Regions from separate parts of the Homo sapiens genome. Here region 2 is linked to region 1. Evidence: fine-mapped expression QTL. A gene starts in region 1. The other region holds a variant in brackets. All regions are shown on one strand. Distances are from middle to middle. Region 1 holds the start of ZFP42 (ZFP42 zinc finger protein). Region 2 has its middle 28 kb from the start of TRIML2.

Region 1 (2,912 bases):
GGAAGGAAGGAAGGAAGGAAGGAAGGAAAATTATATTTTATTGGCCAACCTCAAAATTGAAGCTTATTCAGAAACAGATTTAAAAAAAGAAAAAAGTGGAGAACTGCTCCCAGATATATATGCAGAAAAGCTTCAAGTCAACATTTAGGAGGTTTTTAAATATCGATCTGGGTTTCGTTCTAATGGTCTGGGTGTACTTATACGACCTATTACATTTCACTAGACTGTAGCCAATAGTGAGCGTTGACTGACCATTGCTTTCAAAGTGAGTTGTGTTGCCTTTAGCAATACAGTCACATTAATGGCCAGAAAAAGAAAAAAGAAAACAAACACTGGGGGTGTTTGAAACAACTGGGGGTAGGGTGGGGTGGGAAAGGTGTGGGGGTTTGCGTTCGAGTCAACCTCTATTTCGGGGGGTAAAAACTGCCTCCTCCGCTTGATTTTTTTCCTCGATCTGCAAAAGCGTAAATGTTTTGTTTTGTTCTATTGAGATGGAGCCTCGCTCTATCACCCAGGCTGGAGCTTAGTGGCGCGATCTCGGCTCACTGCAACCTCCGCATCCCGGGTTCAAGCGATTCTCCTGCCTCAGCCTCCTGAGTAGCTGGGATTACAGGCGAGCACCACCATGCCTGGCTAATTTTTGTATTTTTCGGTAGAGACGGGGTTTCGCCATGTTGGCCAGGCTGGTCTCGAACGCTTGACCTCATGTGATCCCCCCGTCTCGGCCTCCCAAAGTGCTGGGACGACAGGCGTGAGCCACCGCGTCCGGCCTAAAAGGGTAAATGTGATTACACCCACGCGTATTTGTTCAACAGACATTTATTGAGCGCTCACCACGTGCCAACGCCGGGCGTCTGGGCTCTGGAGGCGCTGCCACGTGGCGGATGCGCAGTGCCCGGCGGCCGGGCTGAGGGGTGAACGCGGGGGTCAGGGGGCCCCGGGCTGAGGGTTTGCGTGCGGGCCGGGTGCCTGGGGGCCCCGGGCTGAGGGTGAGCGCGCCGCCCAGGTGCCAGGCGGCTCCGGGCAGAGAGTGAACGCGCGGGCCAGGTGGCTCCAGGGCGGCGCCCCAGGGCGGGGCCGGCCACGCCCTCCCTAACCCTGGCGGAGCTGATGGGTGGCTGTAGCCTGATTAGACCGCGTCAGTCCGGAGGGTGGGTCTTGGGAGGGGGCGCAGGGCAGTCCACGTTTCCACTGCAGTTTCTCCTTTGTTTTACGTTTGGGAGGAGGTGGCATTGGAAATAGCAGAGTGCTTCGCGGTAACAGGGGTGAGTCTTGTTTCATGGAACTTTTTTCAAATGGGGAGAAGGGGGTTGTGTTGCTCACTACTTGGAATGTGTCGGTCAAAGGGGTTAGATAGTCAGGGAGGGGAAGCGTGTTCTCATCCTGGGACCAGGCCGGAGCCGGCCTCGCCGGGAGACTTGTAGCCCTCGCCCTGCGGTGACCCGTGGCTGGCCACTGGCCTCAAATGTTGAAAACGGGCAGATGGGCAAGTAATACACTCTCAAGAAAGCAAGTGTCTGGCGGTGATTTCCTAAATTGCATTTTTTATTTTATTTCAAAACTTCATGTAAATATGTTTCCTTACAATATCTGGCTAAGTCTTTTCTATATTAACATGCTTACATTGTGATCAAGACACCAGTCTCTTCCCTTTCTTTTCCTCTCCTCTTATCTCTGGAGATGGCAATACCCCCAACTCAAATTACTCTAGCAAAAAACCTAGGAGACTCTTTCTTTTCTTTTTTCTTTTTTTTTGGAGACAGTCTCGCTCTGTTGCCAGGCTGGAGTGCAATGGCGCGATCTCGGCTCACTGCAACCTCCGTCTCCCGGGTTCAAGGGATTCTCCTGCCTCAGCCTCCCAAGTAGCTGAGATTACAGGCGCCCTTCACTGCGCCCGGCTAATTTTTGTATTTTAGTAGAGACGGGGTTTCACCATGTTGGTCAGGCTGGTCTCGAACTCGTGACCTCAGATGATCCGCCCGCCTCAGCCTCCCAAAGTGCTGAGATTACAGGCGTGAGCCACCGCGCCGGGCGAGACTCATTCTTGATTCCTGTTTCCCTTCCGCTCTTCATCCAATCCACCGGCGAGCTGCAGGGCGAGGGGGTGGTTCTTTCTCCTGTTTTCCCGCTCTCCCTGCATTTCATCTCCTCTGCCGCCATCTGCTCCAAACCCCTGGCAGCCCTTCGCGGGATTCCCAAATCTAATAGATTTTTCTGTTCTCCCCAAATCCATTCTCCATGCAGCTGTCCGGCCCATCTTCTAACCTAAAAAAACTTGCTGTTTGCTTGTTGGAAGCCCTGTAATGGTTTCCTTGGGACCTGGGATGAAATGCAAATGGTCCCGGGGCTCACCGTCAGCCCCGCGCCTGGGCCTCGCCCCAGCCCCCACCTTCCTGCCCGCCATAGCTGTAGGGAGCATGGAGCATGGAGCGTGGAGCGTGGAGCATGGAGCATGGAGCGTGGAGCATGGAGCATGGCCTGCAGCCCCCGGGGAGCGCCGGCAGCCTGGAACCAGCAGGCTTCGCTCGTCTCTTCCCACCCCCGTGCACTTTTCCTCCTGCCCACATCTGGCTCCGATGGCCCCCTCCTTGGGGGCCTTTTCCAGACATTCATGATGAAGGTGGCGTCCTCGGTTACTTCCCCTCTCATATTCTTTTTTTTTTTTTTTTTTTTTTGAGACAGAGTTTTGCTCTTGTCGCTTGGGCTGGAGTGCAGTGGCACGATCTCGGCTCACTGCAACCTCCGCCTCCTAGGTTCAAGCGATTCTCCTGCCTCGGCCTCCCGAGTAGCTGGGACTACAGGCGCCCGCCACCACGCCCGACTAATTTTTTTTATTTTTAATAGGGTTTCACCATGTTGGCCAGGATGGTCTCGATCTCCTGACCTCGTGATCCGCCCGCCTCGGCCTCCCA
Region 2 (2,912 bases), 85 kb after region 1:
TTTTACCTTTTACTTGCTACAGATAACTTCCCTGCCACCTCATTCCAATATAGTCAAAGCAACATTTTATTAAGCCATCAACACCTTTGTTTTTTATGGAGTTAACAGTTCTCTCTATATATATTTAGTTTTTTTTTCCTAGTGTACCAAACACAGATTCATCCCTTATACTGTCCTATGGAGCTATAAAGCTTTTCTTGACATAGCCAAACGGCTAGGAAATAATCAATTCTATTTATTTTTTCCTTCAAGGTACCCTTCTGTGAATCTTCCACCTTTTGTTCTAATTAGGGCCAACTGATGCTGTCGTCCTGGGAATTTTCCCATTCACCATCACTTTGCTAATTCCTTCACCTCTTTGCTTTCCTGTACTCAGGAGACATCCTTGGCAAAACTTAATGGTTGCTGGGTCATGATGAAATATTATAGGCATACTAGAGAAGCTGCTTGATTAAGTAGCCATCAGTTCGACAAAACAAAAAACAAAAACAAACAAAAGCTAATTTGTAGAGTTTTTTAGATAAAATTGTCCTGTGAAACTTCAAAATCAAGCTTCCTCATCTGTTCATTAATGCTGAGATCTTTGTTTTGTTCCTTCAGGTAAGGCAAATACCCGACATACAGGGATTGTTTAATAAACACTTTCTGGGTTTCTTGTTCATTCATTTAACGCCTTTGCCATCATGGGGTTTCCATTCCAGACAGGAAGTTAAATACATAATGTTAAATCAGGTCATGATTAATGCTACAAAGAAAATAATGTAGGGTAAGAGGTAAGAGAATGAGTGGGGATTGGAGAGAATGTTCAGGGAGGGCGCTCTTTGTGGAGGACAGATCAAGAAAGGCCTGTGTGGTGGCAGCCAGCTGGAGCCTAGCACTGCGGTCCAGATGAAAGATCACAGCCTCAACTAGTGTGGTCAAAGGGAGGATGGCGAGTGTTTGCTGAGGGACATATATGGATGGTAGAGCTGACAGTCTTTGCTGATAGATTGAACACAGAATGGCAGCAAAATAAAGGATGGCTCCAAAGTCTGTGCTGTCAGAATGAGCCCCTGAAGCTTTTAGAATGCACGGGGTGCCTGCGAGGGTGGCACATTTGGGAATCTAGTTGGCTCTGACTGAAGCTATGGAGAAACGTGGCAAAGAAGTGAGGAAGAAAGGATGCTGAGGCGGGCTTAGGAGGCCCTTTATTAAAGCCTGGCTGTGTTTATAATCGCAGGCAAGAAGGGAAGCTAATGTAGTAATTCAGAAGGATGAAGAGAACTAAATTGAGGAAATAGGTTTTCATTTTTATCAAGCAATTCATCATTGACTACGACTCCACATTAATTCAGCTCTACCCATAAAGCCAATTAAATTACCCCAAGAAATCAATAAAAACACAGGCAGGGTGGGGAAGACATTCTTGATGAACATTCACACGTCTTTTTTATAAGTATTTGGGAAGAGATTTCGGGCTAAAGGGGTGAAGCATGTTCCCTACATCACTGTAGACCTAGGAAACGAATTCTATTTCTCCTTTTCCCTCCATACAAGCAATCTAACTCCACAATGAAGATAGGGACAGCACATTCTCAGGGGAAATTGACATGGACAGTTCCTGGACTATAGCTCACTCCTATCTGAAGCTCTGAATGTTAACATCCAATGTAGGAACAGCTTTTAGCTTCAGAAATTCCACAGGCCAAAGAACAATGATAACCATTAAGAAGATTGCAACAGGAGCTTTTACCTCCACCCTCTTTTTCAAATACAAAGTTCTCTTGTATCTCTGAGTATCTGGAATGACCACATAGTTCTCCTATCTGAAATAAGACAGACACACAAAA[CAG/C]GGTAATCTAGCTGACCAGAGAGTGCTGGGATAAACACAAAGCTCACTAAAACGGTTAGGGAGGGGAAAAGCTTATTCACATAGTTTTAACTTTTTTTTTTTTTTTTGAGACAGTCTCGTTCTGTCGCCCAGGGTGGAGTGCAGTGGCGTGATCTTGGCTCACTGCAACCTCCACCTCTTGGGTTCAAGCGATTCTCCTGCCTCAGCCTCCAGAGTAGCTGGGACTACAGGCGCCCGCCACCACGCCCGGATAATTTTTTGTATTTTTAGTAGAGACGGGGTTTCACCATGTTAGCCAGGATGGTCTCAATCTCCTGACCTCGTGATCTGCCTGTCTCGGCCTCCCAAAGTGTTGGGATTACAGACGTGAGCCACTGCGCCCGGCCAATGTTTGTATTTTTAGTAGAGACGGGGTTTCACCATATTGGTCAGGCTGGTCTTGAACTCCGGACCTCGTGATCCACCTGCCTCGGCCTCCCAAAATGCTGGGATTACAGGCATGAGCCACTGCACCCAGCCTGGTTTTAACCTGTTTTTTAATTAAAAATTTTATTTTACATAAATACACTTTTTGAAAATAATTTTAAGTTTCCATCAACGGCTTCCTTTGAGTAATGTGAACCTCACTTCCACATCTTTGCCAGGCCTCGACTTCCCCAACTCTCCCCTCCAGTGAGCCTGTTATCTGTCTGCAAATACTTTTAACGAGATACAATTTGTGTGGTTGGAAAGAATAAACAGCCCAGGTTTCAAGAGTCTGAATATCACTCTCTGGAGATTTTGAATGTATTGGCTCTATTTCTGACTCAGTTAAAAAAAAAAAGTACTGCCACTTAGGGTAGATGAGGTCATAGAAAGCATTCTGAACCTTCCCTGGCAGGTAGCAAATGTACGACAAACTGAAATTGCTATTTTGAAAGGAGAAGCAATATTTACATTTACATCCTTTCTATTTATCATTCTACCACATCCATCTATCATTACAGAGAATTCCTTCTTCTCATGTGAGGTTAAATTTCCAATCTCATACTTGATTTTTTCCAGGTCAAAAGTCTCATTCTCTTATATATGTTCCAATTTG

What was found. PIP is the estimated chance that this variant, and not a neighbour inherited with it, causes the effect.
Region 2: its variant is fine-mapped to the expression of ZFP42 in lung (TOPMed, PIP above 0.99).

The regions. Positions count from the first base shown.
Region 1 is chr4:187,994,576-187,997,487 of GRCh38, forward strand. It overlaps ZFP42 (ZFP42 zinc finger protein), which reads left to right and starts at 1,196. Exons shown (of 4, transcript NM_174900.5): 1 at 1,196-1,265. RefSeq lists enhancers at 384-1,363, 1,364-2,345, 1,960-2,254.
Region 2 is chr4:188,079,801-188,082,712 of GRCh38, forward strand. No RefSeq gene overlaps it. Among named protein-coding and RNA genes, the nearest start is that of TRIML2, 28 kb to the right of the region's middle. RefSeq lists an enhancer at 1,423-2,004. The variant CAG/C (reference allele first, on the strand shown) is at 1,830.